Homo sapiens: one gene and its partners. The protein of the gene in region 2 purifies or fractionates together with the protein of the main gene of each other region. This does not show direct contact. Each region holds a gene or a part of one and is shown on either strand. Other genes may lie near its edges. The genes, in order: POTEF, SERTAD4, PPP2R2A and ZFP1.

What was found.
Region 1: the proteins of SERTAD4 (region 2) and POTEF purify together in Homo sapiens (affinity purification with mass spectrometry; 3 studies listed by BioGRID and IntAct, with this or other methods). This does not show direct contact.
Region 3: the proteins of SERTAD4 (region 2) and PPP2R2A purify together in Homo sapiens (affinity purification with mass spectrometry; 4 studies listed by BioGRID and IntAct, with this or other methods). This does not show direct contact.
Region 4: the proteins of SERTAD4 (region 2) and ZFP1 purify together in Homo sapiens (affinity purification with mass spectrometry; 3 studies listed by BioGRID and IntAct, with this or other methods). This does not show direct contact.

Annotation. Positions count from the first base shown.
Region 1 is NC_000002.12:130,125,997-130,134,222, forward strand, and holds the start of POTEF (POTE ankyrin domain family member F), read right to left. Parts: upstream 3,227-8,226; 5' UTR 3,076-3,226; intron 1,869-3,075; 5' UTR 1,713-1,868; intron 1-1,712.
Region 2 is NC_000001.11:210,234,705-210,242,795, forward strand, and holds part of SERTAD4 (SERTA domain-containing protein 4), read left to right. Parts: intron 1-2,581; exon of another isoform or gene 2,582-2,764; intron 2,765-3,239; 5' UTR 3,240-3,256; coding exon 3,257-3,431; intron 3,432-4,788; coding exon 4,789-4,904; intron 4,905-6,853; coding exon 6,854-7,633; 3' UTR 7,634-8,091.
Region 3 is NC_000008.11:26,349,798-26,357,888, forward strand, and holds part of PPP2R2A (serine/threonine-protein phosphatase 2A 55 kDa regulatory subunit B alpha isoform), read left to right. Parts: intron 1-4,670; coding exon 4,671-4,836; intron 4,837-8,091. UniProt on the Homo sapiens protein: Substrate-recognition subunit of protein phosphatase 2A (PP2A) that plays a key role in cell cycle by controlling mitosis entry and exit. Involved in chromosome clustering during late mitosis by mediating dephosphorylation of MKI67.
Region 4 is NC_000016.10:75,143,860-75,152,051, forward strand, and holds the start of ZFP1 (zinc finger protein 1 homolog), read left to right. Parts: upstream 1-4,664; 5' UTR 4,665-4,784; exon of another isoform or gene 4,785-4,803; intron 4,804-5,041; exon of another isoform or gene 5,042-5,180; coding exon of another isoform or gene 5,181-5,408; intron 5,409-8,192. UniProt on the Homo sapiens protein: May be involved in transcriptional regulation.

The DNA of each region.
Region 1 (8,226 bases), on a different chromosome or scaffold from region 2:
AATACTCTTGAAAATGGTGGCAGAGAGCCAGGCGTGGTGGCTCACACCTCCAATCCCAGCACTTTGGGAAGCTGAGACAGGTGGATCACTTGAAGTCGGGAGTTCAAGACCAGCCTGACCAACATAGAGAAAACCCATCTCTATTAAAAACACAAAGTTAGCTGGGCATGGTGGCACATGCCTGCAATCCCAGTTACTCAGGAGGCTGAGGCAGGAGACTTGCTTGAACCCAGGAAGCGGAGGTTGCAGTGAGCCGAGATCGCCCCATTGCACTCCAGCCTGGGCAACAAGAGCAAAACTCCATCTCAAAAAAAAAAAAAAAAAAAAAGAAAGAAAACAAAGGAAATGGTGGCAGAGAAAATGAAGGCAATACAGTTCACTTAATAATCTCATAAATTAGAACTTACCCCGTGACTCCTGCATAGCTCCAAATATGTGAGAGAGATGAAATGGCTGTTTGCCACCAATATTTTTATGTGATGCTTCATTTTTTGATTCTCTGAATAACTACTTACAACGCATTAGCCCATTTATGCCAGAGGCTGCAATTTTTTGAATTTTTGCACGAGTGAAAAATCAAACCTTCTAATGACCTTGAGCAGTAGGATGTAATTAACTCCCTCATGCTTACCATTCCAATAATGGAACACTAGGCATAAGTGGTTTAACACAATCGTGAAAGCATAGCTATTCAAGTAACTAATTATACAACTGATTTTTTTCCTCATCCCTAAAACATAGTAAAGGACCAGTTATTTTAAAAATACAACACAGTGACAATTTTGGCTTGTTGTTTGTTAAGGCCATTGCTTGGCATAAAGAAAACAAAAAGAGGAGGAGAAACAAGAATAGAAACATGAAATAGAAGCAGCAGCAAAAGAAAATGAAGAGGAACAAGAAGATGAGAAGAATACACAGACTAGAATAAGCAAAAAGAACAGGTGCAGGAATTAGAAGGCCTATTATGACACCTTTTATCCCCTCCCCAATTCACAAAATTTGAAAAAGTCCAAGACCATCACAACAAAAAAGAAGGAAAAAATGGCCGGGAGTGGTGGCTCACGCCTATAATCCTAGCACTTTGGGAGGCCAAGGTGGGTGGATCATGAGGTCAGGTGATCTAGACCATCCTGGCTAACACTGTGAAACCCCATCTCTACTAAAAATACAAAAATAAAATTGGCTGGGCGTGGTGGCAGGCGCCTGTAGTCCCAGCTACTAGGGAGGCTGAGGCAGGAGGATGGTGTGAACCCAGGAAGCAGAGCTTGCAGTGAGCCGAGATCACACCACGGCACTCCAGCCTGGGCAAAAGAGCGAGACTCTGTCTCAAAAAAAAAAAAAAAAAAAAAAAAAAAGCCACACACACACACACACAGTCACCCCCTAAATTTTGTTAAGAATGAGACAATGCTGCCACTCATGCCTGGCTCAGAAGGAGGCCACCCTCCAGAGATTGCAAGAGAAGGGGGAGGACTCCTTTCCCTAAGTGCACCTCCACCACTGCCACCGAGGCCCATGGTACAGCACCAGCAGGTTCGTCCCCACCCCAGGTCGGACTGGGCCCTGCAGTGCTCCTACTCCCCCTTCCCAGTCCCCAGACTTTCTGCCACTACCACCACTAGCACCAATGCCAATACAATTGCTGTCGCCATCAATGCAGCAGCCCACCCTACAAGGTTCCTACCACCTTGCCCCCGCGGGCACCCTCCTACCACTCCTGTCGAGCTGCAGTCTCCGTGGCTGCCATCAGTCACACGAGGCGAGCTGCAGAGTCACGCCACATGCAGGCTCCAGCGTACCACAGGTGATTCCTTCTCCTCCTCCTCCAGCCTGGCTTGGAGCAGCTAGACGGGCAAAGCCAGAAAAGCCTAGAATGGGATGCAGGGAGTGGTAACGTTAGAGCCTCACCTTGTCATGCTGGCCACTGGGTGGCAGGGACCAGCTTCAGCTAAGGCACTCAGACCCACCCACCGAAGTCCAGCCTCTCTTTCTGGCAAAAGGTGGCCAGGAACTGGGGCGGGTGTGAGTGCCTATGCTGAAACCACCCCCATCCAGGTGCAACTGGCCAGAAATTGCTGGGCCCACCAGGGCTGCACTCCTTGGGGAGCAGGAGTAGGAGAAACTCAGACCCAGCCAGCCCTCCCCACTCAACTGCTGGTTCCCATTCCTGACACCTCCACCCACAGTGCCCTGTTCCCACAGTCCCCCGCGATGCCCACTAATCCCCACCCGGTAGTCCCAGGTGGTCTCCCCAACACAGAGCATGGGGTGTGGGCGGGAGGTGCAGGCCGGAGAACCGCAGTGGGTGTGGGGGCCCTGCCCTGCTCAAGATTGCACCAGGAGGAACTCTGGAGTCTGGAAAAGAGAAGAGTCACCCGAAGGAGCAAGGAGACCATGGCTGTTGCTGTCCCCACCACCTCTGCAGCCGACCAACACCACTGGCAGTATAGCCCCCATAGCAACCCTAACCTGACCCCTGCCGCCGGCAGTGTAGCCCCCGGACAGCACACCCACCACACCCTGTGCCAGTTGCAGGCAGTGTAACCCCAATACCCCCCCCAACCACCCCCTCCACAGGCAGTGTAGCACCCGATAGTGCCCACAACCTGACCCAGCCACAGGTGTTGCTGCACAAGACAATGCCTCAAAATCGCCGCCCCCACCCCACCACAGGTAGCGCAGCTCCTGATAGCGCACCCTGAGTAAGGGCAGTGCAGCACCCGACAACACTCCTAAACCACCCCCCGCTGCCAGCATTGTAGCTCCAAATAACCACCAAAACCACTCCCTGCCCCGGGCAGTGCAGCAGAAAATAGTGCCCCTAACCCCTCCCCCGCCACCGGCAGTACACGTTAGTGCACACAACCTGCCTCCCCCCCATCACCCCCGCCACCACGGGCAGTGTAGCCCCGGACAGCCAGCCAAAACCGCCCCCCTCCACCGCCAGCAATGCAACCTCGGAGAGTGCCCCCAACCAGCCCCCTGACACAGGCAGTGCAGCCTCGGGTAGTGAGCCCCAATAGGACACCCAACCCCTGCCCCCACAGGCGGGCAGTACATCCCCGGATAACTCACCTACACCAGGACATTTCTACCACTCTGGCCGAGCTGCAGTGTCCCACGTCACCACCAAACACAGCAAGGCGAGCCCCAGGGGCTCAGGCTCCAGCCTCCAGCATGCCGCTCCCTTCTACTCGTCTTCCTGCCTGGCAGGAGAAGCTCCCGCTACTGGTTGCCCTCCTACCACTGTCGACACCACCAACTGCAGTGAGCCAGTGTCCGAGGCTCCAGCCAGAAACAGGTAGCAGCCATGCCGGATACCAAACGCCCACACTTAAGAGCCTGAAATGACCTGACGCCACCTCCGCATGCTTTACCTACTGAGGTTACGCACATGTGGTTCCCAGACTACATGTTCTGATTGGATGAGAGAAAAACCTCTAGGCCTACTCTGATTGGACTTTATTTTCATGCTGTGATTGGTTGTCTTAAGACTGGCTCTCATCCAATCAGAACATGATAATAAAGTCCAATCCAAGTAACCCTGGAGGGTTTTTCTCATCCAATCAGAACATGCAGTCAGGAATCCTCCTGTATATAATCTCGGTATATGACTGCTGCTGAAGGGAAGTCAGGCTCTTCCACGTTCCCGTATTTTCCTGTGGAGCTGCTCAGTGCCCGGCTTAGAGGACCAGGAATGGGTAATCACCAGCCGTACGCTGGAGGCTGGAGCCGCTACACCGTGGCTCGCCTCGCTGCGACTGGTGGTAACCGCGACCGAGACGGCAGTGCGGCGGAAGCGGTAAGAGGAGGAAAAGAGTTTTGGGATAGATGGAGGGGGTAAAGAGGGTGGTTAGTGCCAAAGGGAAAAGAGGATAGTGAGCAGGAGAGCGCGTTGCAAAAAGGCGGTGGGGAAAAGATAGTGGGAAAAAAAGTTTTTGGGTAGATGGAGGGAGAAAAACGGGGTGGGGAGCGGGAGGGAGGGAAGGTTTTGCAGAAAGATGGTGGGTAAAATGTTTATGGGTAGATGGAGGAGGAAAAGAGGGTGGCAAGGGAGGAGGAAAGAGAGGGTGGTGGGGGGGAGAAACAGCGTTGAGCAGTAGGGAGAGAAGGTTTTGTGAAAAGACAGTGGGGAGAAAAGGTTTTGGGTAGATAGAGGGGGAAAAGAGGGTAACAGGTGGGGGAAGGGAAAAGGGTAGCCAGCGGGAGGAAGACAAGGTTTTGCAAAAAGATAGTGGGCAGGAAAGAAAGACGGTGGAGAAAGAAAAGACAGTGGGTAAAAAGTGTTTGGGTAGATGGTGGGGGGAAAGAGGGTAACGAGGAGGAGGAAAGAGGGTGACGAGAGGGAGCAGGGAAAGAGAGTTGGGAAAAAAATGGGAAAATAGTTTGGGGTAGATGGAAGGCAAAAAAGAGAGTGGCAAGCAGGATAGGGCAAAGAAGAGGACGAGTGGGAAGGGGGGAAGACTGTGAAAAGACAGTAGGGAATATTCTGGGGGGTGGATGGAGGGGGAAAAGGGGAGGTGAGCAGGAGTGGGGAGAAGGCTTTGCGAAAAGACTATGGTGAAATGTTTTTGGGTAGAGAAGGGAAAGAGGGTGGCAAGGAGGAGCGGGGGAAAAGACGATGAGGAAAACAGTTTTCGGGTAGATGAAGGGCGAAAAAGTGGTGAGCAGCAGGAGTGAGGAGAAGGGTTTGGGAAAAGACGGGAGAAAATGTTTTTGCTTAGATGAAGGAGCAAAAGAGGGTGATGAGAGTGGGATGGGGGAAAAGAAGGTGGCCAGGGAGAAAGGGAAAAGACGGTGGGAAAAACAGTGGGGAAAGTGGGTAAGTGGATGGGGAAAAGGGTGGTGAGTGAGAGAGCAGAGAAGGCTTTGCGAAATGACGGTGGGGAAAAATGGTGGGGAAAAAGTTTTGGGGTAGATGGAGGAAGAAAACAGGTGGCGAGGGGGAGGAGGCCAAAGGCGGTCGGGAAAAGAAGGTGGGAAAATAATGGTGGGAGACAAAGATTTGGGGTAGATTTTTTTTTAATCAGATTATTTGTATTTTTGCTTTTGAGTAGTTATTTATATATTTTGTGTATTAGCCCCTTGGCTGATGCATAGTTTGCAAATACTTTCTTCCATTCTCTGGGTTGTTTCTTCGTTCTACTGATTTCTTCCTGTGCTTTGCAGAAGCTTTTAAGTTTTATGTAATTACATCTTTGCTTTTGTTGCTTGTGCTTTTGACAAGTTTAATGTAATTACATCTTTGCTTTTGTTGCTTGTGCTTTTGATGTCTATTTGAAAATTCCTTGTCCTAACCAGTTTCATGAAGGATTTATCCTATGTTTTCTTCTCTAGTAGTTTTATAGTTTCAGGTCCTACATTTAAATCTTTATTTTGAGTAGATTTTTGTATATGGTAAGATAACGGCCTAGATGTATTCCTGTACATGTGGGTGTTGAGTTATCCTAGCAGTTTATTGAAGAGATTGTCCTTCCCGAATGTGTGTTCTTGGTGCCTTTGTTAAAAATGAGTACGCCATAAATGGGTGAATTTATTTCTGATTTCTCTATTCTGTTTCACTTGTCTATGTCTGTCATTCCTTCGTTTCTGTTTCTCCCCCGCCCCTTTTTTTGATAGTATTATGCTGTTTTGGTATTACCATGCTTACTACAGATTTGTAGTATGTTTTGAAGTCAGGTGTGATGCCTCCAGCTTTTCTTTTTATTCCAGATTCTTTTGTCTATCTGAGGTATTTTGCGTTTCCATGTGAATTTTAGGATTTTTTTTTTCTATTTCTATGAAGAATGTCTTTTGTAATTTAACATGGATTGCATTGACTCTCTAGATCACATTGGGTGATATAGACATTTTAACAATATTCTTCTAGTGCATGGACATGGGATATCTTTCCATTTACTTGTGTCTGCTTTAATAGCTTTCATCTGTGTTTTAGAGTTTCCATTGTGGGATCTTTTGTCTTTTTGGTTAAGTTTATCCCTAGATATAATTTTTTTGGTAATGAAATAGCTTTCTTGATTTCTTTCTTAGGTATTTCACTATTGGTGCATGGGCGTGCTACTGATTTTTATATGTTGATATTGTATCTTGCAACTTGACTAAATTATTTCTAGTAGGTGATTTTGTGGAATCTTTAGGGTTCTCTCTTTCTCTGTGTATATATATGATCATGTCACCTGCAAACAAACAGTTTGACTTCCTTTTTTCCAATTTGGATGCCTTTTATTGCATTCTCTTGTCTAATTGCCCCACTTAGGACTTCCAGTACTATGATGAATAAAAGTGGCGTAAAAGTAGCCACACTTGTTCCAGGCCTTAGAGGAAGAGTTTAAACATTTCCCCATTGATTATGATGTTAGCTGTGGGTTTGTCATATATGGCCTTTATTGCGCTGAGATATGTTCCTTCTGTACTCATGTTGTCCAGTTTTTGTCATGAAGGAATGTTGATTTTTATTTTTTTCAGCATCTACTGAAATGATTATATGGTTTTTGTTCTTGATTCGCTGAATGTGATGTCGCACATTTATTTGTGTTTTATTGAATCATCCTCATATTCCTGGGATGAATCCCACTTGATCATGGCAGATCATCTTTTTATTGTGTTGTCAAGTGCAATTTTCAAGTATTTTGCTGAAAATTTTTTTGCATCTGTGTTCATCAGGGATATTTAAAATGCCTGTGGTTTTCTTTTTGTGTTGTTTCCTGGTCTGGTTTTTGTACCATGTACCAGGGTCATGCTGTCCTCATAGAACAAGTTTCGAAGACTTCCTTTCTCTTCATTTTTTGGGGAATATTTTGAGTAAAATTCGTATTAACTCTTTAAAAAACGTTTGGTAGAATTCAGCAATAAAGCCATGATTCTTGTGTTTTTGTTTGATGGAAGACTTTTTATTACTGCTTTAATTACATTACTCATTATGGATCTTGTTCCGGTTTTTTGTTTATCATTCTATCTTGGGAATTTGTTATGTGTCCAGAAATTTATCACTTCTCCTAGATTTTCCAACTTGTTTTTATATAGGTGTTTTTAGTAATCTCTTACAATCCTTCATATTTCTGTGTTATCCATTGTAATGTCTCCTTTTTCATCTATCATTTTGTTTTGTTTTTCTTTTCCTTAGTCTAGTTAAAGCTTGTCAGTTTTGATTTTTTTCTAAAAAATCCAGCTCTTTGTTCCATTGACTTTTTGTATTTTTTGTTTCTATTTTTAAAATTTCTTCTCTAATCTTTATGATATTTTTTGTGCTAATTTTAGTATTTTATTTTTCTCGTTTTTCTCATTACTTCAGGTGTACTGTCAGGTTGGCTATTTGAGATCTTTCTATTTTCTCTGATGTAGGCATTTATAGCTATGCCCTTTTCCTCTTACAACTGCTTTTGCTGCATCCCACAGGATTTGTTATGTTGTGTTTCTTTTTTCAATAAATTTTTAATTTTCTTTTTATTTTTTCATTTATTTATTGGTTGTTCATGAGCATGTATTTTAATTTCCATGTATTTGTACAGTTTTTCCTCCTGTTATTGATTTCTAGTACTATTCCACTGTGGTCAGAAAAGATACTCGATATGATTTCAGTTTTGTTTTGTTTTGTTTTTTTTGAGACGGAGTCTCGCTCTGTCGCCTAGGCTGGAGTGCAGTGGCGCGATCTTGGCTCACGCAAGCTCCACCTCCCGGGTTCACGGCATTCTACTGCCTCAGCCTCCCCAGCAGCTAGGACTACAGGCGCACGCCGCCACGCCCAGCTAATTTTTGTATTTTTAGTAGAGATGGGGTTTCACTGTGTTAGCCAGGATGGTCTCTGTCTCCTGACCTTGTGATCCGCCCCCCTCGGCCTCCCAAAGTCCTGGGATTACAGGCATGAGCCACCGTGCCCGGCCATGATTTCAGTTTTTAAAAATGTGTTGTGACTTGTTTTTTGGCCTAATGCATAGTCTTTTGTGGATAATAATCCATATTCTATTCAGTGGAATGTGCATTATGCAGTTGCGGAGTGGAAAGCTGTGCAAATGTTAGGTCTATTCGGTATAGAGTACAGTTTAACTGATGATGTTTTGTTGTCTGGATGATCTGTCCATTGACGATAGTGGGGTGTTGATTATAGCGAAGCATTGAGGCATTCTGTTATTGTATTGCAGTCTATCCTTTAAGGTCTGTTAATATTTGCTTCTGTGTTTAGTTGCTTGAGTGCTGGTTGCATATACACTTATAATTGTTATGCTGCTG
Region 2 (8,091 bases):
CAAATGCTCTCCAATTTTCAATGACAGATGGAAGAAGAAGTGAGCAAAGAATGACCTGGAGCCCCTTGTTAGATTCAAGGTGCCGCTGAATTCATAGCTACCCTGTTTTGTGTGCCAGCCACTCCTATTAGCATCATAATTGCTTCTAGGAAAGAACAAGCCCAACTCATCTGGAAAAAAACAAATTGTATAGAAATGCCTGGTAACTTTACTACGAACATTTGCTGGAAAAGCTTGGCATTCTAGCCCTCAGTCTTCTGGGGATGCTGGAAGTGTCATTCCACTACATCCACCTGGGTGTCAAAACAGACATTCAGGAGCCTGAGGATGAAGGGTTAGGGCTTTTTTTTTTCTTATCTTTTAAACCCATGCATAGACAAAACACACTCTAACACCCTCCTGTTGAATCCATCACCTCTGATCTTAGAAAATAAATTTTGCCATAATGTATATCCTTTTCTTTATTTAATATTAATAGAACACGAATTTGTGGACTTGAATTGCTGACGTCAGTAGCAGAATTATAAATCTTATCAGACAGAGAATTATGACAGTTTAGATCTCTACATATAATACGAAGAAAGATTCACGTTAAGCATTTGTGCTTAACGCTGCCCTGTCCAATTTTTCGTGAACATTCAACTTGCCTTCTTAATTTGTTAACATCCAGTGTAAGTTTTAAATAGACTAGGAAGACTCAATTGCAAAATCTCCTCCCCGCTCCCAAATAATCCCAACTCATTCATGTTTTATTCAGATTTACATAAATCACTTGCAGAACTCAGCCTCTCTAGTTTAGGGTTTTGTGTGTAACAGTTCTCAATTTAAAAAAGAAAAACTTAGTAAAATTAGATATTGTGAACAAAATAATAGCCAAGATAAATACTGTTATGCCATGTTTCAAGTTCACGTGCATAATAGGATATGCTGGAAATAATGCTAACAAATAGAAACGCTGAAATTCCTCACAACCAAAAAAGGTACTACCAAAAAGTTATTAAAATATAAACAAACTCTGACAAACATAAAACAGCACAGGGCCCATATAATGTCCTGTTAAACAAAAGTAATTGCTGCCAGGAGCCTGCAAATGTTTTTCTTTCTTAAGGGGCATGAGTTTGACAACCTGCTTTTGTTTACATGAAATAAAAGTCTGCATAGGCAAAAGGCTTGCATCTTATTCCCATGATCTAACACAAAAGTGAGTGTAAACTTCAAACTAGAAAATGTTGATTCTCTCAATAAGAAAGGGCTGCTGACTGTTGAAAAGCTGTAATTCATGTGCTCTTGGCAATAGTATTTCCTGATATGATTGTCTCTTAGAATAGGTGAAGAAACTGGACAATTTCATGAGAGTCTTCCAGGGAATAAATCATCATGAAGTTTGATACCCTACTTGGATGAGGAGTTTGAGAAATGATAGACAGAAGGACTTAATTTGTTAAATCAATGTAGGCTAAATTTCTTTGTTGATGACTCAAAGAGAAAAATAAATGACATGTCCCATCGTTTCTTTGTAAAGATTTAATCGAACCTTTCTTTTGCCCACTTGTTTTAAGGTTTACTAATAAGTCCGTACTGATGTCTCTTTGGAGGGCATCTTAAAAGAGAACGGGGAGGTGTTGTAGCAGCCCAAACCAGCTGAGTCCTAATTCTCTCCACTGACCTGTACACCTTCCCTGTCTGTCAAAAGATCTTGCTTCATTATTCAGTGTGGTTGGGACAGAATTTGAGACCTCAGAGAGAAGACTGGGTGAAAGGTAGAGTCATTGCTGCCAAGAGCTGCTCTTTTAGCCAGAAGGACATTGTCACTTTAATGATGCTATTTCGCCTTACCCTGGTGTTTTTCCTCTTTTTCCTTGGAAGTGGACCCTTGTTATAGCATGTAGGTAATAATAGTCTCCCACGAGACAATGGTAGATTCACTCTTTCCCAGAAACATTACAAGCTGTATAATTTGGAAAAGAAAGCAAGAACTGGGCCCTTAGTTTATGTTTGAAAGACAATCAATCTTCAGAAAGCCTGACGTCACTTGTGTGACAGTTCTTGAAACCACAGAATGAGATAGTGGGGGCTTGAGTCTCCTAAAGGGATTGGCAGTTAAGGAGGCACTGAGGTTGCGCTACTGTCACCACTGGTCTATGGCTGCTAGGTCTTTTTACCTTCATATCAGACTCTCCTCTCCCTTGAACTTACTCTTGACCCTACCTCGAGACCTGCAAAGGGCCAAGTGAAGACACAGAGCCCCCATGAAAGCGGCCTCACTGCCTGAGCTATCGAGGGGCCCAGGAAGCCTCACAGAGCAGAGAAGCTCCCATCTCCCTGCAGGCCCAAGGGAGAAGGGCGTGAACTGGAGAGAAGGGCAGTGATGTGTTGCCTCTTGGAAAGTTCCTGCTCTGTGTCTGGGCTTTGCAGTGTAAAGAGTTGTTGGCTGCCTCTGGCCCCAGAGCCTGGCTCCTGTTTAATATTCTGCCTGCTCCGTTGATGTTGTGCTTGGCTCCTGTGGGACTGCAACTCACGGCTTGAAACTGGAGCCAATTTTCTGTCTTCATCTCGCAGTGTTTTGACTGGAGGCAGATCCAGTTCAGGCCGATCAGGGCTGGTGGAAACAACTACCAAGTGTCTCTCTGTCTGCTTTGCTTTGGGAGAAGAAAGTGGAGGGAGCCCCAGCATGTTGTAGAGGAACTGGCCTGCGGAAACGAGAGGAGGAGGGTGCAGGGGGCAGCGGAACAGACTGAACCTCAGAGCATCAGTTGGAATTACGGTGGATATTTCTGCTTCCCCTGCCCTTTTCTTTTGATTGATTAGTGGATTTCATCAAAGGAGACTCCCGGGGGATTGACTAGAAAATTGATTTTGCCTTATTAATAGAAAGGAAGCGCAAGGGTTTTGGCTTCTTAGCAGTACATTTTCTTTGGAAGGTCAGGAGGAAAATGTGTTTAGGAGGCAAAGCAGCTGTCTAGAAGAGGGCTGAAGGGAATCTGAGAACAATAAGAAATGGGGTTTTAAAGATCCGCCCATGAAATGCAGATTGCTGAACACAGAGGCTGAGCTAATAGCAGCTAGAGAGTTTGCTGAGGTTTTCTTTGAAAAAATAATAAAATGTTTCAGGGTAAAGGGGAGGGCCGAGAAGTAAAAGTTTCCCAAAGCAAAGAAATGAAGATGCCAAGGCCGTCCCTTGGCTTGCTCTTGATTAGGGCTGTTTTCTTCATTCTTGTTTTTTTTTTTTTTCTTTTCAGATCTGAGGCTGTCAGAGATGACTCTGGTTCTGTCCATGAATAGATTCTGCGAGCCCATTGTCTCGGAAGGAGCTGCTGAAATTGCTGGGTACCAAACACTATGGGAGGCTGACAGCTACGGAGGCCCAAGCCCCCCAGGGCCAGCACAAGCTCCTTTGCAGGGAGACCGGGGAGCTGGTCCCCCACTGGCAGGTATTGCCCTTGACCTGCGCCCATCCCCCCCACCCCTCGCTGCCCTTTGCAGCCAGCCTGGTGGACAGGAGGTGGTGTCTGGGGTGCCCCTCTGAGCCAGGAGAGCTAAAGCTCCAGGGACTTCCCGGGCTGCCTGTGCGCCTCTCATAAGTGAGTCCAGAGCTCCAGAGAGAGGACCAGAGGTGATATTTAAATTGCATTCAAACCTGTGTCTACCCATGCTGCTTTTTGAATATAAGTCATGTGTCTGTATTTTTAAGAGGGCCAAACCAGATATTGAAACTCTGAGTTTGGGTTTTGGTTTTCTACCCTGTGGAACTGTATGGTTCTCTCACAACTATGAAAGCTCTGGTGGGCTCAACAATGACACCTTTATCCCATGAGATATAAAGGAATCTGCACTTTGGGCCAGCAGCTATGAGCTTCTTTTCTTTGTTAACCCATTTATGCCCAGTGTTCCATTATTGGAACGCTAAGCTTGTGGAAGTTATTTATATCCTACTGCTCAAGGTCATCACCAAGGTCTGACTTTTCAAACACAAAAAAATTTGCAACCTATGGCATAAATGGGTAAAGCACACAATTGGTTTTAGGATTGTAGGAAAAAAATTTAAAGCCAAGAAAATAGAAGTATGTTCTTCCTGATTCTTTCTTCTTATAGTTTAAGTTCCTTTGGATTTTTTTGCAGTATTAGCTATTTTTAAAAGAAACTAAAATATAAAACAAGTACTCAATGAAGTCTGTTTTGCTAAAAAAGATTAAAAACTGTGGTCTTCATGGTTGGCATACTACATTTTGGAGAGTGAAAAGGACATTAGTTACCCAAAATTTTAACTCAAATTTTAAAAATTTGAATTTTGTATTTTGAAAAAAAGGAATGCTATAATCCCAATGTGCAGATAACCATTTGTTCACTAACCTAAAGCCAATAAGATTTCAAAGTTGTTTGGTTATCAGTGGTTACAGTTAAAGATGTATACATCTTTAACAGTGGTGCTATGTTGTCATGAATTTAATTAAACAATTTAAATAAATACTAATATATTTTAGAGAAATTACACTCCTCCCCTTTATGAATGTTGCAGTTTCCTTTTGCATAGAATTAAGATTCTGCATATTTATTAAATGCTAAAATATGTGATTTTCCTCTATAATTGCCTAGAAATCTTTTCCTAGCCTGGGTCACAGGATTCCATATGATAGCAACTATTAAGACAAATGTTTATTTTTAATCACCACATGTACAGACAAATATGTAGCCAAGTTATCCTCTAGAAGGAAAGGAAACGAAAGTATTTTGTTTGGAGAACCTCTGGCAAACCGCATGTCATTTGTCATATCTGATTTATTACCACAGGATCACATTACAGGGGAATTTCAAATCCTATAACAACATCCAAGATCACATACTTTAAGAGGAAGTATGTGGAAGAAGAGGATTTTCACCCACCACTCAGCAGCTGTAGCCATAAAGTATGTTTTTTTAATAGTCATTATTTTTATTAAGAGTTTAAGATACTTAGTAACAGTTGCTTGATCCACTTCCAGGAATTAAATTGTTTCACCCAAGCAATGAAAATGAGCCACTTCTCAGTGGAGCCTCATTAATCGTTGTCGCTTTTTTGGGTCCTGTGTTATTTTTCACAAGTACTTGAAGAAAAAGCTGGCAAGAGCTATTCTACCCAGAAATGTCAAAATTATGTAATCCAAGGAATTTTTTTTAACGTATGATTTAATATTTCTCAGACTGTGTTTTGGGTTATGGTTCTTCCACACTTTTGTGTGTGGGGAATGCGCTCGTTCTTTCCTGTCATGTTCTCCCCAGTCTGAGTTCTGGCTCCTGCAGCCAATGCTACTTCCCTGTGTGTCCACATGGGGGTGGTTACACAGGGCTTTTCCTGACCTCTTATGGGTAGACTCATCATCCTTGAATGTGTGTATACAAGTAGAAATATGCACTTCACTGGACATGGGTTACATATAAGTTTGTTGAAACATGGACTTCATTTCCAGGAAAAGACCAAAGCTAACTTTTTTGTAGGTATAGTTAAAAAAAAAAACAAGATGGGGAAATTGCATAGAATTATGAATCTGGGCATCTAAGCTTTTGAAATATCAGTTCATTTTTCTTTAGAGTTACCTTCCTTCAATAACTATCTGCTGATTTAATCAAGGCAGGTATAAGCACAGACCATAGTTGTCTGAAATGCAGAGAGGATTTTCAATTCTTCTTCCTCTCTGTCTCCTCTTGCCTTCCCCCTCTGCCACCTCATCCTTTAGATGTTGCTTTTACCTTGCTCATGAAAAGACAGCAGAATGCATTGGTAGGTACTGGGCTTTTCCCTGCATGTGTAGTCCCTGCCTTTGGTCAGTATGGGCTGGTTTAGTTCACAGCTCCTCAGGTTATGGTGCCAGTTTGCTTTTTTGATGGCCTGGAATAACTGGTCCCCAGGACACAAGCAGTTTATTTCCTTTTTAGTTTCTGTGTTGTGGTTGTAGCAGTTTCCCAGTTGCTACTGGATTTGCACCAACCATCGCATAGTGACAGTGTCACACAGCTCAGGAGTGAGCCCTCTCATTTCCTCTCGGCATCTCGTCTCCCACTCAGCTCCACAAGGAAGCCTACTTTGGTCCTTCAACTGACACATTCTGTCAGGGTCTGAGCCTCATTCATTAGTGTGTCCTCTTATCAAGCAAGGATAATTGCAAGTATGAAACCCAAAGGATTAAAAGAGGGACAGCATTAAAAGCCAAATCTCATGCTCCTTCTTGGCTAGACCAGGGTTTGAAGTATATTCATTATGACTTGCATTTTGGCATCATTTTAAAAACATGTATTGATGTACAATATATGAGTTATGTGTCTGTGTGTGTGTATTTGTATAGACACACATAAAAAAGTACAGGTATCACAGTACAGCTTGATGAATTTCATGAGGTCATGTAACTAACATCCAGGTCGAGAACCAAAACATAACTAGCAACCAGAATCTTCCTTCTGCCGGCTTCTAACACTACCCCTCGCCCCGCTCACCCCAACTCTGAAAGTACCTCCTCTCCTGACTTCTAATAGCTTAGATTAGTTTTGTGTTTCAGCATCTTCCTTATTGGGCCATAATAGATCAAACCACCTGAACTGTCCCTCCTGGGGCCTGCACTGTGGCTCGATTCCCTAGTGCTTGACCACACCAGTGAGTCAGGAAGTGGGTGGGTGCTCCAGCCAAGTGAGGAAAGGGAATATCAGCAGAATGGGGGACAGCCTCTCTAAATTAACCCTGCGGAACAAGACCACAACATGCCCAGACCCAGACAGTGCCAAGAAAGAAGTATGCTATGATGATGTTTTCATATAGTCCATTTTCTAAGCTTTCTCTCTTCCTTTTTCTGTTTGTTTTTTTCTTTTTTTTTTTTTTGGTTTGTAGACCATCTCAATTTTTGAGGAACGAGCCCACATCCTTTATATGTCCTTAGAAAAGCTAAAGTTTATCGATGATCCTGAAGTGTACCTCCGAAGATCTGTCCTTATAAACAATTTGATGAAAAGGATCCATGGAGAAATTATCATGCAGAATAACTGGTGCTTCCCTGCCTGCTCTTTCAATGGCACCTCTGCCCAAGAGTGGTTTATGGCTCAAGACTGCCCTTACCGAAAACGACCACGGATGGCCAAAGAGGAATGTGAAAAGTTTCATGCCTGCTGCTTTTACCAAGAATGTGGTGGCCACTACCTAAATTTACCCCTTTCTGTCAATGCTAATGTTGGAAGTGCCTCCACTGCTGCCTCCTCTCCCTCCGCCTCTTCTTCCTCCTCATCTTCCTCTTCCTCTCCCCCTTTGCCTTTACCGAGTTGTTCCCGCCAGGTGGATTTTGATGTAGGTAGTGCATCTATTTACAAGAGTGATGGCCAGATACCTGCCAATGAAATCTTTGTCACTAATGTCAGATCACTTGGTGTTCAGGAAAAGGCCAAATTAAATGATGAGAAAGCAAATGATGACACCAACAGAGATGGTGGCCCCCTCAGCCACGAACCTGTGGGAAATGACCTTGCTTTTGAGTGCAAAGGCCAATTTTATGATTATTTTGAGACCGGATATAATGAAAGAAACAATGTAAATGAATCTTGGAAAAAGTCCTTACGGAAAAAGGAGGCTTCACCACCAAGTAACAAACTGTGCTGCAGCAAAGGAAGTAAAATATGAGCCATCTTCTCACCGAACTTTGAAGCATGCACAGCATGATCAGTTAGCTCTCGTAAATTTTATTTTGAATGGATTTTGTAGTTTTGTACAACAGATAAAATTATGCCATGAACATGCCATGTCGTTTTAATGCCTGGAGAGCAGATTGCGTAAAACATCTGTATAGCAGGCATCAGCGAGCTTCTTATAAATGTGGTGATTTTTACCAAGGAAACGATTGACTTAATGCTTAAAAGTATATCATAGTTTTCTTACGGAAAAGATCAGTAGATGAGATTGGGGGACAATGTGCCCTTGCAATATTTCCATTGCCCCCCAAGGAGCCTGTCACTAGCTAAGAAATTTCTACATGTTTGCCAGTTAATTAGGGAGTTATTTGGTAAGCAAATCAATATAACCAGCAAAGATACCTGCTTCTTCTATATGATACAATATTTTTTTTAAATAAAAGACTAAAG
Region 3 (8,091 bases), on a different chromosome or scaffold from region 2:
ATCCACAGTTTATCCATTATGAGTAATGTTGCTGTGAACATTCTTACTCATGTTTTTTGCTGTACAATCATGAGTAGAAATATTATGCCCATAGGGTAGGCATTCACTGTTAGCAGACATCACAGTAAAAAGTTCTGCTAATTTTATTCTTGTGAACAGTATATAAATTTTATGGCTGTTCTACATCTTTGCCAGTGCTATGTGTTGTATTATCAGTCTTTTAAAATTTAACACTTTGTGGGTATGAATTAAGTTTGTATTTACTGTTTGTTTGTTTTTTTTTGAGACGAAGTCTTCTTGCTTTGTCACCCAGGCTGGAATGCAGTTGGTGTGATCTTCGCTCACTGCAACCTCCTCCTCCCATCAAGTGATTCTCCTGACTCAGCCTCCCAAGTAGCTGGGATTACAGGCATGCACCACCATGCCCAGCTAAATTTTTGTATTTTTGGTAGAGAGAGAGTTTCACTGTGTTAGCCAGGCTGGTCTCGAACTCGACCTCAGGTGATCTGCCCGCCTCAGTCTCCCAAAGTGCTGGGATTACAGGCATGAGACATCACGTCCGGCCTTGTACTTACTCTTGTGATTCACATTGAGATTGAGTAGTTGTTGTGTTGTTTTGAGACAGGGTGTTTCTTTGTTGCCCAGGTTGGAGTGTGCAGTGGTGCGCTTACAGCTCACTGTAGCCTCAAACTTCTGGACTCAAGTGATCCTTCCCACTTCAGCCTCCCCAGTAGCTGAGACTACAGGCGTGCACTGCAACACTTGACTAATTTTTTTTTTCTCTCTCTCTTTTTTTGGTAGGGATGGTCTCACTGTGTTGCTGATCTTGAACTCCTGACCTCAAGCAATCCTCTGTCTTGGCCTCCCAAAGTGTTGGATTACAGGCATGAGCTGCGACTCCTAGCCAGAGCTGCTTTTTATATGTTTATTGGCTATTTGGATGTTATCTTTTGGAAGTGACTATCGAAATCTCTTATAATTTTCTGTGTTGTGTGTCATTTTTCTTACTGATTTGTAGACTTTCTTTACACTTTTTGTAGATGAACTCTTTTTCAGTTACATTTGTTGGAGGATCCAGGGGCAGTGGCTCACGCCTGTAATCCTAGCACTTTGGGAGGCTGAATTGGTTGGATCACTTGAGCCCAGGAAATTGAGACCAGGCTGGGCAATATAGCAAGACCTCATCTTTTTTAAAAAACAAAACAAAACAAAACAAGAAAACCCACACATTTGTTAGAAGTATTTTTCATTCTGTGACTTGCCTTTTCATTTTTTTGAATAGTATATTTTTATAAATAGAGATTATTAATATAATACAGTTGATCAGTATTTTTCTTAGGGTTACTGGTTTTTCTGTCCTGTATAAGAAATACTTTTCAACCCCAAAATCCAGGGAAGACATTTCCGTTATCTTTTAGAACTGTATGACTGGTACTGTAGCTACTAGATCCATGTGGCTATTCAGATTAATGGGGAGTTGAGTCTGTTCTCTCTCCCCTAATGCAAGACCCTGTTGCAGTGGTCCCTGTCTCCATGGCCCTCTTTAAAGTCAGCCTTACTACCTTATAAATAAGTAAATAAATAAATTTAAATTATTAAAAATAAATTGTAGAATTAACTTCCTTAGTTGCAGTAGCCACATTTTAGGTGTTCAGTGTGTGCCTAGTGCTCAACATGACTAGTGGCAACCATACTGGACAACACAGATACAGACTATTTCCATCATTGCAGAAAAGTTCTCTTGGGTCCTGTTATCCTAAAACTTAATTATTGTACCTTCACATTTATATCTCTTATTCATCTGTAATCACTTTACGAGTGGTTTTGGGAAGGGGTCGAGCTTCATTTTATTTCCTATGAATAGTCAACCTAACACCATTTAGTGAAAAGACCATCCTTTCCCCATTGCCCAGCAAGGCAACCTTTGTCATCATTTAGGCCTGTTTCTGGGCCATCTGTTCTGTTTCATTGGCACATTGGTGTATCCTCATGCCAGTACACAGTCTTTATGACTTTGCTTTAAAACTTGGTTATGATGTCCTTTAGTGAATTCTGTTAGCATCTGTGTTGAAAATGTGTGATTTTGGTTTTGTGTCCTGTGTTTGTAATGTATGTAAAGTATGTGACATAGCTCATTCTAAATCCTGCTTTGAAAGTCTTTATTGAATGCCTGTTATATGTGCCAAGTACTGTTATAGGTGCTGGGGAATAAAGCACATCTAAACTTACTGTAGAAACTTTCATGCAAATAGATTGTATGGTTAGGAAGATGATTCTCATAGTGATCATAAAGGCAAGCAAGAAAAGAGAGGGAGGTGAAAATGCTGTGCAGGTAAAGCCAGTATGAATTGTTGAAGGATGTGTCACAATTCTGTATGACTGTAGGAGAGGTTTTTAAAACAAAAACATTGTGTTTGATTTTGATGCATTCTCATTTGAGTGGCTCAGTGTTGAGTATGCGGTTATGTGTCTTCTTATTCAGGCTTGCTCACTGTACTTTGTTTGTGCAGGGAACAATGCTATCATGATCATTATAATGTAAACATCCCCTCCCAAAGTGTTAGGAAAAGTCTGCTGCAGCTCCCTGTGGTCTACTGTCAGTTACCACTTGTACCCATCTGTTTTATAGCCTCTTCAGTTTTGTTACTGCTGCTGTCATTTCTGCCATTACTCTTTGTCCTGTGGACTTGTTTTTAAAAGTTCTGTTATGATCACTTTAATAAAGTTTCAGGAGAGAGGGGAGGCTAATGCATGTGCTCAGCCTGGCATCTTGAGCTTTTTAGACAGAATTTTCTCCTTTTGTGATACATTAATTTATTTCCTGTTGCAAAGAGATGGAGCTTCTTGCAGTCCACGAAACTGCCATATACCTCTATGATTTTGTTTTTGGATTCTGTAAGATACCATGTTTAGTAGACCTGTGTTGTTGTCCACGAGTCTACAGGAAGATGTTCATGTTTTGTTTCAGAAAATATTTCTGTTGTTTTGTGCTTTTCTTAACTCATCAAATACAATGTGTGGCTCGCCCTTGGCCCTTCATATTGCTTACCTTAATTGTGTAGACCATAACCAGTTTCTACTTTGACTAAAGTTTGACGTACACAAGTTACTTGAATGTGGGGATTCTGTCTATCCCTCTACGCCCTAGTGTACATAGTACTATATATTATAGTCTCTTTAAGTGTTAAATGAAAAACCAGTCTAAAATGCAGGATTTATATTAAAAATCGAGTTGCCTGCTTAATGGTATTGTGGTTTCCTTGTAGACTATAATGATAAATTTTGTGAGACTGGGTGAGTCATTTTAGGTAAAAGATTTGTGGAGCTTTAAAGTGATACTGGAGTATTTATATATGTTAATGGAATAGGCTGTCTAATTTTGTGTATGGGTATGGTGATGAGACCAAGGCTCTGAGTCTGATTTTTACCCCTTGTGTATCCCCGATATGTGGATCGTTTTGTGGGACATGTATTCTTAACATTGGCAGACTTGCCCTCTAATAACTGATAACTGCTGTCCAAGGGTTCAAATACAACCATCCATGAATGAACAACCCAGATCATCAGGCTGCTGGAAAAAACAACCCAAAACATAGACTTTCAAGATGATTCAGTGAAGTTTCCTTTTGATATGGAGAATAGTAATAGGCTGTTTTTATTATCAAGAAGTTCTAAACATTTCACTGGGTAACTCACTTTTACTTAAAATAGTTGACTGTCAATAATATCTCATTCTATTTTTTACTTAAACTTTTTCCATAGGTGGTTCTTTGAACTAGACTTTCAAATTTTTTTATGAAAATGTTTTTAATCGTGTGATAATAGGTCAAAAGATGAAATTCTGAACATGATTATAATTCTCACTTTTGCTGAGATATTAATGCTAACCAGAGTAGTTCAAAAGTAGTCCCTTTATGAGATAGCTTAAATTACATTTTTTCAAAGTGATACTAAATGAAATTAGTCATCAGTGTGTGCCAGGTTCATAAGATGAGAAAGCAAATTTAAGGCGAGTAAGCAGTTGTTGATGGGGGTGCATGGGGCCATTGCTGGGTAGTGCTGAATATGGACTTGATTGGTAGCAAAGCTGTCTGGAACAGTGGTCTTGGGGTGGGAGGTAGGGGTCAAATGGTATCCCTTCTTTTATAAGAGCTCTTTTTTTAAGCTTTCAGCAGCGAAATAACCAAAAGGCGGGCAGCAGAAAGGAAAAGGACAATACATCATATTAAATAACAGATCGGGGAGTTGACCCTAAAGTGGGCATAGGAAGAAGGTGTGCCTCACCTAGCTCTTTCTGGGCAAGACTTTATCATTATTTTTAGATGAACTTCCTTATTATGGGTGCTCAGTTTTTTTTCATCAGTTTTTTTCATAGACTATACCATCAAATACATAAGAGTAAATTAGCAATCAAATTGATCCATATTTAACGTCATTATTTCCCTAATGAATTGAGCTTATTTATTCAGCTTTATTTAGCCTTTTCCCCCGTTAAGTTTTCTCATTTAATCCTTGAAGGCCTTTAGAAATATAAAAAACAGAATGTAATTGTATAAAGACACAACTAATGGGGTATTGAGAATGTGCAGGGTCCTTTGGAATTGATTACATATTTGATTATTTTGAAATATTTTTCAACAATGGTCCATATATTTTTGTTTTCATTTTAGAACAAAATCCAGTCTCATAGCAGAGGAGAATATAATGTTTACAGCACCTTCCAGAGCCATGAACCAGAGTTTGACTACTTGAAAAGTTTAGAAATAGAAGAAAAGATCAACAAAATTAGGTGGTTACCCCAGAAAAATGCTGCTCAGTTTTTATTGTCTACCAATGGTAAGTATACATATTTTCTTTCCATGTGCCCACTGTGTGTACCTGTTGCACATATCCTGTAGCCTAGGAGAGGAATCATTTAACAGAGATACTTGTAAAAAGGACTTTTGTTTTTCTATACAGAATGTAAACTCTACTTTTTTACTGTCACTTGCAGTTTTTAGATTCTCTGAAAGATTCTCTGATAGCAATTTTTTGTTTACTACACCTCCAATTTGTAGTGAAAAGAATGGGCTGCTATACCATTGGATTTAGGTCAGGTAATATTTCTGTCATTTCTCAGTCTCGTAATCTTGGGCAGGTTACTAACACTGAATTGAATTTTCCTCAGCAGCAAACTAGAGATAGCAATTTTTTATTATAGTATTATTATGAATATTAAATAACTTCACATACATCATGAGTGCAAGTGCTCAATAAATGTTAATTTATTCCTCCTTTTTAAGTGTTTGTAAACTACACAGAGTATCTCAAACTGCAGATACAAAATACTCAAAGGATGGTCTCCATTCCAGGATACGCTATAGGAGAGCACTTTCTTACTTGATCACCATTAGCATATTGCCTTCTTCCCAGCAATCCACATGGCTGGAAGGAGATTCCTCTCCTACTGTTTACTTGCCAAGGGAACATTTTTTGTTGTTTTTTGAGACAATGTCTGTCGCCCAGGCTGAAGTGCATTGGTGTAATCACAGCTCACTGCAGCCTCGACCTCCCTACCTCAGTCTCCTGAGTAGCTGGGACCACAGGTGAGTGCCACCACACCCGGCTAATTTTTTAAAAACATTTTTGTAGAGACTGGGTCTCCCTATGTTGCTCAGGCTGGTCTTGAATTCCTGGGCTCAAGCAGTCTGCCCCGCTCAGTCTCCCAAAGTGCTGGGATTACACGTGTGAGCCACTATGCCTGGCCCAGGAAAAGTTGAGTGAGGATTAAAAGTTAGTAATGACAGGCCGGGCGTGGTGGCTCACGCCTGTAATCCCAGCACTTTAGGAGGCTGAGGCGGGTGGATCACGAGGTCAGGAGATTGAGACCATCCTGGCTAACATGGTGAAACCGTGTCTCTACTAAAAATACAAAAAAATTATCCGGGTGTGGTGGCGGGTGCCTGTAGTTCCAGCTACTGGGGCGGGGGTGCTGAGGCAGGAGAATGGGGTGAACCTGGGAGGCAGAGCTTGCAGTGAGCCGAGATCGCGCCATTGCACTCCAGCCTGGGCAACAGAGCGAGACTCGTCTCAAAAAAAAAAAAAAAAAGTTAGTAATGACTCTACCAGAATTTGAAATCCTTTATGATGAGTTGGGTGCTTTCTCTTTGTTCTTATGAAAAACTTTTTCCTGTGAATTGTTTGGACTTTGTTGGGGTCTTGAGTCTAAAGGGAATCATTAGAGTGACTGAGGAGATACTTTAGTTTCTGGGTAGCCGTAGTCTATAAAAATTTGTGATTAAAACTTTTTTGAGGTTGGTGCTAGGGTGAGGGGAACCTCTTATTTTCTCATCCCCTCACTATTAATTTAAAAAGCAAATTCTAACACCTAGACCATAAACATTTGCAGAATATATACTTAAATGACTTCAGGATGAAATGGGGGAAGAAATTCAGCACTTCCTCCATCTAATTGATGCCCCTCGTCCACAGTATTAGTTCTTAGAAATGCTGTTCACAAATGCCTGATGGCCATCAGCGTTGGCCGCCTCCTGGGTGCCCGTTTTTCTGATCATGAAAGCTTTCCCCAGCCAGTCCATTGAGATGCGTACCCTCTGCCTTCTCTGTTTTCACAATAGACTGCATTCCCCTCTCTTGTCCTTATTAGAAGAAAAATAAAGAGAAGTAACTATTTAAAGCCTGTAAATCACAGCACTATGGGTGGAGGGAACAGTTTATTCCTGTCATATGCTAGCTTCTAGTCTTGGGTCAGTTTTAATTTATATGGTAAACTAAGTTATTTCAAATAGCTTCAAATATTTTAGACACTGTTCTTTGGCATCAGATGATACATAATTAAACCATTTATATAATTTCTACTTTTAGAAGTAAATGTTCCTAGGGAAATGTGTTGTTAACATTTTATATATTGGAATATTTTTATGTCAGTTTATTTCTTATAGGGCTACATCAGCTTTCTTATAAAGAGAACTTTTTAAATGTAGGCTGAGTTCAAGAGAATAGTATAGTGAAGCCCTGCATGCTCATCATCCACTTCTGACACTCCTCAGTTCATGGCTAATTTGTGTCTCGGATCCTTCCCCTTCCCCTCCTCCTCAGTGTTATTTCGAAGCAAATCCGATTACAACGTCTATGGATTAAATCTTGTTTAAAGACATTAGAGAATGCATTGTAGATTTTTGTCTTTTGTTTCTTAATACTAAGTAAAATACAGCTAACTGGGGGCTGCATTTTTTAATGCTAAAATAAGTGCTTAATAATAGAGTCCAATGTGGAAGGATAAAGCAGATTATGAGAATCATATGAACTGTTGTGTCTGGGTAGATGGGAAAAGGATGGGAGGAGTAGGACTTGAACTATATCTGAAAAACTATTTGGAAAGAAGGAGACTTAGAGAAAAATGTCAACATCTGTTGATTCTGAGTGATATCTTTTATATTATTTTGTGTATTTTTCTCTGTGAGTTTTTTCTGTGAGCATAGTAACACCCCCCCCCCCCAATATAATGGGTCTATATAAAAACTATATCTGTGGGAGAATGATGGAAAATAGTACCAAACTTTCCAGGTTTGATTAACCAAAATTAATCTTATAAAAATATTTGCATTGGCTTTCCATGATCATTATATGAACTGGGTTTCCCAGATCATTTTTACTTAAAGGACGTCATAGTCACCTTATAACTTGAGTTAATTTAATGTTCCTTCAAGCATTTTAATTCTCTTTCTCTTTAATCTTCTTTTGCTCCTCTGAATTCTCATTAATTCCTCTACATTGCAGAAAACATGAAACTGACCTGTCAACCATGAGTGTTACATATATGAATAATGTAAAGTTCACTCATAAATAGGGTGTGTCTTAACAACTTCTTGATAAGTTTTTTAGGGTCTTACATAAAGCTGCATTCCCACAAAGGAAACGGCAGCGTGGTTTTCCCTGCTCATACCTCTCATACCTTCTGCTTGTGGTGAGAGGAACTCTGTTCTTCTGCAGTTTCTCCAATGCTTTAGTTATTAGTGTTGATAATTCAGGGGAACACCACAGTGTGGTCGTTTTGGAAGGAACAGATCTTGAGAATCTAATAACGTCTCC
Region 4 (8,192 bases), on a different chromosome or scaffold from region 2:
CCCAGGCTTGTCTCAAACTCCTGGGCTCAAGGGATCTGCCTGCCTTGGCCTCCCAAAGTGCTGGGATTACAGGCATGAGCCACTGCACCGGCCACCAGTGGTGATATTAATGTAGTTGTTTGATACTGTATAATAAAAGGTGTCAACATTTAGAACCTCTGCATGAGCTGGCCAGGTCAGCAATGTGTTTCTCAGAAACACCCGCTACACTTTCTCTTTATTTTTCAGGGAAAATTAATAGAGGACAATGTGGTTGTGAATTTTAGAAGGTCTTGAAAAGTACAGCCCACACACGTGGTGCTTACTCAGTGCTGTTACACATAAGGCGGTAAGGGGAATTTATCTTGTGTGTATGTGTGTGTGGGGGGAGTTCTCCATTCTCTTCGTATAGTTCAGTGTTTAGTCTTTTTAAAATATGCATAGTTTTTTACAAAAATAGGATTACGCTGCACATATTCTTGTGTGATCAGTATTATTTCATTTCTCAATGAAATAACCCCCACGTGGGTAATACACATTATCCTTTTTAGTGTTTCCCCAAATTCTCCTTACATATCACCACAATTTATTTTACGTTTACCTACTAAAAGATTTTTAGATCCTTCCCAAGGTTTTGCAAATATAAATGGCAATGTGAGGAACATTCTTGTATATACATCTTTCCATAAGATTATAGGTTATGGTAATTTATAATTTTTAAATGTTGGTATAATAAGATCTTCAGAAAAATTTGATGTGTACACTCACATCACAATGTTGTATATCCATCACCACTTTCTCCTTCCAGAACTTTCTCATTATCCCAAACAGAAACGCTATACCGTTTAAGCACTAACTCCCCATCCCTTTTTATTCCAGTCCCTGGTAACTCTGTTTTACTTTCTGTCTTTATAAATTTGCCTATCCTAGGTACGTCATATAAATGGAATCATACAGTATTTGTCCTTTTGTGTCTGCCTTCTTTCTTTTTTTCTTTTCTTTTCTTTTAAGAAACAGAGTCTCATTCTACTACCCAGGCTGGAGTGCAGTCGTGCAATCATAGGTCACTGCAGCCTCGAACTCCTGGGTCAAGTGATCTTCCTGCCTCGGCCTCCTGAGTAGCTGGGGCCACAGGCACATGCCACTACCTCCAGCTTGGCTTATTTCACTTAGTGTATTTTCAAGTTTTAATCACGTTGTAGCGTGTACCAGAACGTCATTCTTTGATATGGCTGAATAATATTCCACTGTATCCATTCATCAGCTAATGGACACTTGGATTGTCTCCACCTTTGGATATTGTGAATAATGCTGCTATGAACATTGGTGTAAACACCTTTCTATGAACCTGTTTGAGGATATTGTTTTAATTAAAAGCAAGCTGCTACCACTACATACCTATTAGAATGGCCAAAATTCAAGACACTGACAACAAATGCTGGTGAGAAATTGGAGCAACAGGAATTCTTATTCATTGTTGGTGGGTGCAAAATGATGCAGCCACTTTGGAAGACAGTGTTGGCAGTCTCTTACAAAACTAATGATATGGACAGGAGGCAGGAGGGCGGGATTCCTGGTGAGGGTTCTTACCCTCAAGCTTGGACCCATGGCCCTAAATGAGAACAGGCATTCCTGTTTTCACGCCTGTACGTTGCCTTTTCCAAGACCATTGTGGCCCACCCTGCTCTCTATCCTGTGCCCATAAGAACCCCAAATCCCAGGCTCCACAAACAGAAGAGCAGCAGAGGGGCAGAGGGGCAGAGCTGCAGAGCAAGGTGGTGGAGAAGGAGAAAAGAGAAGAAGCAATTGAGCATTGAAGAGGTAGCTGGATGGTCAGAGAGGAATTTGGCCAGGGACAGCAGAACTCCAGGGGACGATTATCTTCCCACGCCATCCCCTTTCCAGCTCCCCATCCTGCTGAGAGCCACCTCCCTCACTCAATAAAACCTCTGCATTTACCATTCTTCAAGTCCATGTGACCTGATCCTTTCTGGATGCTGGACAAGGACCTGGGTATTAAGAGGGCAGGGTGTAAAAGGCTGTCACCCTCACTCTCCACTGAGCTGGTTAACGCTTAGCTGTCCATGGATGGCAACTGCTAGAAGAGCATTAATTGTAACACACCCCTAGATGCTACCATGGGGCCAGAGCCCAAAGGTGCTCACCCTGGCCCTGGCACCCACTTGCCTCTGTGCTCCCCCTCCCATAAGGGGTTTTAGCACAGTGGCTGAGTAAGCTAGCCACGACAAGTCCCGCGAAGGGGTCCAGGGAACTCTCCTGTCTCATTAACATACTGTTACCACACAATCCAGCAACCATGCTAATTTTTTTTTTTTTTTTTGGAGACGGGGTCTCGCTCTGTCGCCCAGGCTGGAGTTCATTGGTGCAATCTCGGCTCACTGCAAGCTCCGCCTCCCAGGTTCACGCCATTCTCCTGGCTCAGCCTCCCAAGTAGCCGAGGCTACAGGTGCCCGCCACCACGCCCGGCTAATTTTTATTTTTGTATTTTTATTAGAGACAGGGTTTCGCTGTGTTAGCCAGGATGGTCTCGATCTCCTGACCTCGTGATCCGCCCGCCTCGGCCTCCCAAAGTGCTGGGATTACAGGCGTGAGCCACTGCACCCGGCCGCAACCATACGATTTACCCAAATGAACTGGAAACTTATATCCTCACAAAACCTGAACACAGATGTTTAGAGCAGCTTTATTCATAGTTGCCAAAACTTAGAAGCAACCAATGTATCTTCAGTAGGTGAATGGATTTAAAACACTGGTACATGCAGACAGTAGAATATTATGCAGCACTAAAACGAACTGAGGCTGGGCACAGTGGCTCATCCCTATAATCCCCGCACTTTGGGAGGCCAAGGCAGGAGGATTTCTTGATCCCAGGAGTTTGAGACGAGCCTGGGCAACATGGCAAAATGCCATCTCTACAAAAAATACAAAAAATTACCCAGGCATGGCTGTGTATGCCTGTAGTTTTAGCTACTTGGGAGGCTGAACTGGGAGGGTCACTTGAGCCCAGGAAGTGGAGGCTGCAGTGAGCCATGATCGCACCACTGCACTCCAACCTGGGTGACAGAGTGAGACCCTGTGTCAAAAAAAAAAAAAAAAAAAAAAAGCCAGGGTAACTTGAGGGAAACATGAGGGAAACTTAAATGTATATTACTAAATGAAAGAAGCCAATCTGAAAAAGCAACATATGTATGATTCCACCTATATGACAACCTGCAAAAGGCAAAACTATGGAGACAGTAAAAATATCAGAGATTTCCAGGGGTTGTGGGATGGATGAATAAATGGAGCACAGATGATTTTTTGGGGGGCAGTGAAACTATTCTGTACGATACTGTAATGGTTACAGGCATTTGTCAAGACCCATAGAATGTACAACATCAAGTGAACACTAATGTAAGCTATGGACTTTGGGTGCCAATGATTTTGTTTTTTAATTTATACTTTTTGAGACAGGGTCACCCAAGCTGGAGTGCAGTGGCACAATCTTGGCTCACTGAAACCTCAGCCTCCCAGGCTCAAGTGATCCTCCCACCTCAGCCTCCCGAGTAGCTGGGACTACAGGTGCGTGCCACCATGCCCGGCTAATTTTTGTATTTTTTTTTTTTTTTTAAGAGATGAGGTTTCACCATTTTGGCCAGGCTGGTTTCAAATTCCTCGGCTCAAGCAATCTGCTTGCCTCAGGCTCCCAAAGTGCTAGGATTACAGGTGTGAGCCACTGAGCCTGGCCAGGTGCTGATATTTAACTGTAGGTTCACCAATTGTAACAAATACACTGTTCTGGTGTGGGATATCAACTTTGGGGAGGTTGTGTGTGCTGGGGGGACATGGGTTATATGGGAATTCAATGTATTTTCTGCTCAAATTTTGCTGTGAACCTAAAACTGTTCTAAAGGATGAAAGGAACTGAGGGTGAAGGGAAATGGGAAGATGGTGGTCAAGGGGTACAAAGTCTCAGTTATGCAAGATGAGTAGTTCTGGGGAGATGCACAGCTATGTGACGATAGTTGACAATATTGTGTACTTGAAATTTGCTAAGAAGATAGATCTTAAGTGTTCTCATCAGACAAATAACTATGTGAGGTGATGCACATGTTAATTAGCTTGATTATGGTGAATATTTCACAAATGTAGATATCAAGTTGTACATCTTAAATATATAGATCTCAACAAATATATATACCTCAACAAAGTGGCCTGGGAAAAAAGGGAAAAAAGCTAGTTGCAGCACATGATACCTTTATGGCCAGTTTTGTAACAACAACAAAAAAATCAAAGTGCGAACTTAATGTTATACGCAGTTAATCTTTAGAAAGTGAGATTATGGATACTTTATTTTGTACATATATTCTAATTAAATACAGTTATAGATTATTTGTGTAATGTTTAAAAGCCAAGTTGTTGTATTTAAGGGGGAGGTGGTGAATTGTAGTTCACGACCCACTCTGGGAAAAAAGAAAACAGTGCAGGCTAAGGAGATTATTTTGGTCGGCTCATCAGACCGCCTAACAAGGCGAAGACTTTCCTGAGAGTCCCTAAAGCCGCGGCCCCGGAGGCTTGTGGGAAATGTAGTCCCGAACGTGGATGGTCCACCCCTCCGAGGACCCTGGGAACGGCCCGCGCCCCTGTTTCTGCGCATGTGCAGTGCTGCGAGCGCGCCGGTGGCCGCCCTTCCCCCACCACCAGCGGCGAGTGGGTGACAGAGCCCCCGTCTCCGCGCGTCTTCGCCGCCCTGCGCCGTGACCCGCTGTGGCACTGGGCCACGAGTGGAGGCTGCGCCCCTCCAGGTACGAGAGGGGCTTCCAGGTAGCTCCGCGCGGCCTGGGGCCGAGGGGAAGGAGATGAGGGATGGGCTCGTGCCCGCGCAGGGTGGGAGCCCAAACTTCGGCTACTCGTAGGCGGCAGTGACCCTCAGGGCGGCGTCCGGGGTTGCCCGGCGCTCGCCTCTGAACGGGGCCGGCGGGGCACGCCTGGCCGAACGTGCGGGGGCGGGGACGGCGGAGGGAAGGGCGGCTATGAGGCTTCGCCTTCTTCTCTTTGTCAGGAGATGCGCCTCAGACGGGCGGCGAAGGGCTCGGGCCGCGCGGGAGCGAGTTCTGGAGCCCCGGCGGGCGCGCGCGCGCGGGACGAGGCCCCGCCGGGGCGTGGTGGGGGCGTGGCCTGACACACCTGGCCACGCCCCGATGCCCGGTGCCTCGTGGGTGGAGGAAGGACTGGAGCCTGGTCAGTTGCCGGTGGTGAAGGAGAACCGTGATCCCTTTGTCAGAGGGTCTTCAGTGAGGTGTTCCCCTGATCCTCGCATCCACCCCGTGACTTCCAGCGTTATCATCTCCGTCGCTATCCCAGGAACACGGGAGGTTCAGAAGGGGAAAGTGATTTCCCTAAGGTCTCACAACCCGGTGGTACTTTATGTGAGCAGCAGATATTTTTTCATTTATCTTTTGATTTTACTCGCTGGTAGATTTTGCCATGTATACGTTTTGACGTTTTAAATTTCTCTCGGGTGGAATTTACTGTTCTTTCCGTTTGGGGCACCCAAAATTCTTCACTACTTTGAAATACGAAAGTTTTCCCATGATTCTGGTGCAGTCACGCTCTGCGTAACAGTGTTTCTGTCAACGAGGGACCTCATGTAAAATGGTGGTCCTATGTGATTGTAATACTATATTTTTGTATTGTACCGTTTCTTTTCTTTACTTTCTTTTTTTTTTTTTTTTTTTTGAGACGGAGTCTCGCTCTGTCGTCCAGGCTGGAGTGCAGTGGCTTGATCTCGGCTCACTGCAACCTCCGCCTCCTGGGTTAAAGTAGTGCTCTGCCTCAGCCTCCCGAGTAGCTGGGATTACAGGCGTGAGCCACCGCGTCCGGCCAGACACAATTTATTGATGTAACTGTTCCTCTAAATACTACTTTAACTACATCACTCAAATTTTTATATCTTGTATTTTCTTTTCTGTTGTTGTTGTTTTTGAGACTGAGTCTCACTCTGTCACCCAGGCTGGAGTGCAGTGGCACTCAGCTCACTGAAACCTCTGCCTCCCGGGTTCAAGCAGTCCTCCTGGCTGGGATTACAGGCACCCGCCACTACACCTGGCTGATTTTTGTATTTTTAGTAGAGACGGGGTTTCACCATGTTGGCCCGGCTGCTCTAGAACTCTTGACCTCAAGTGATTCTCCCGCCTTGGCTTCCCAAAGTGCTGGGATTACAGGCATGAACCACTGCACCCAGCCTTTTTATTGTGTTTTCATTACCATTCAATTCAAATTTTTTTAACTTCCCTTGTGACTTCATTTTTTACCCTTATTTATTTAGATTGTATTGCATAATTTCCAAGTTTTTGGAGATTTTCCAGATCTTTTTTTTTTTTTTTTTGAGACAGAGTCTCGCTCTGTTGCCCAGTCTGGAGTGCAGTAGCGAGATCTCGGCTCACTGCAAGCTCCGCCTACCAGGTTCACACCATTCTCCTGCCTCAGCCTCCAGAGTAGCTGGGACTACAGGCGCCCGCCACTACACCTGGCTAATTTTTTTATTTTTTTTTGTATTTTTAGTAGAGACGGGGTTTCACCGTGTTAGCCAGGATGGTCTCTATCTCCTGACCTGGTGATCCACCTGCCTCGGCCTTGCAAAGTGCTGGGATCACAGGCGTGAGCCATCGCACCCGGCCCAGATCTTTTTATATTATTGATTTATAGTTTAATTCTGATTTGGTCAGAATACTGTGTTACGAATTTCAATTATTTTAAATTTGTTGTGGTTTGTTTTTGTATTGTATTTTTGTTTCATTTTGTTTTAGTAGACTCCTGGTCTCAAGTGATCCGCTGACCTTGGCCTCCCAAAGTGCTTTACAGGCGTGAGCCACTGCACCAGGCCTGTTGTAGTTTGTTTTAAGGTCGAGGATATGATGATCTCTCTGGGTAACTGTTTCGTGTGTATTTGAATAAATATTGTGCTGTTGATCGTAGAATCTTCCTTGATTGATTGATTGATTGAGACAGGGTCTGTCTCTGTTGCCCAAGCTGGAGTGCAGTGGTTCAGTCACAGCTGTCTGCAACCTCAAACCTTTTGCCTCAGCCTCCCGAGTAGCTAGGACTGCAGGTGTGCGCCCTAATCCTTTTGCCTCAGCCTCCGGAGTAGCTAGGACTCAAGGTGTGAGCCACCACACTCAGCTAATTTTCTGTATTTTTTGTAGAGACGAGGTTTTGCCATGTTGCCCAGGCTGGTCTCAAACCCCTGGGCTCAAGCAGTCCACCCACCTTTGCCTCCCAAAGTGCTGGGTTTACAGGCATGAGCTACTGTGCCTGACCCTCTTTTTCCATTCTTTTATCTTTTTTTTTTTTAATTTCCTGACTCCTACAACTGATCATCCTTTTACTTTGAATGTAGCTATGTTTTTATATTTTAAACAAACTGCTTATAGACAGCACATGGTTTGGTCTTACTTTTTTTATATAATTTGACCTCTGTTATTTAATTGGTGTGTTTATGCCAATTATTGATATAGTTGTGTTAAAGTCTACCATCTTGCTGGTTTTTTTCTGTTTTTCTTATTTGGTCTTTGTTTCTGTTTACCTTTTTTTCTGTCTACTTTTGTCTTAAGTGGGTCTTTTTTATAATTACATTTTATCTCCACTGTTGTCTTATTGTATATTTGTAAAAATTTAACAGAGTTTTTGGTTGTTACCCTAAAGTTTAGTGGAACTTTAAAGATATCATACTGTTTTATGTCAATATACTTGGAACATTATACTCCCAATTTCATCCTCCCGTCTTTTGCATTATTGTTGTCATACATGTTGCAGAATATTGACATATGCTGTAAACCCACAAAACTTTGCTACTATTTTTGCTTTAGATAATCTTTCACAGTGATTAAAAGCAAGAAAAAGTATCTATTGTGTTGATCCTCATTTTAACGATTCTCGAGATTTTCATTTATTTGTGTAGATTCAGGTTTTTGTCTGATATCATATTTCTTCTATTTAAATAACTTCATTAAACATTTCTTCTAGTGCAGGTCTACTGATAATGAATTCGCTATGTTTTTGTTGTTTGAAAAAGGTTTTTTACTTCATTATCATTTTTGAAAGATATTTTTGCTGGGTATAGAATTCTGAGTTAATAGTTTTTTGCTTTAGTTGCTTTTTTGTTGTTGTGAAAGCACTTTCAGGATGTCACTACTTTGTTTTCTGGCTTAGTT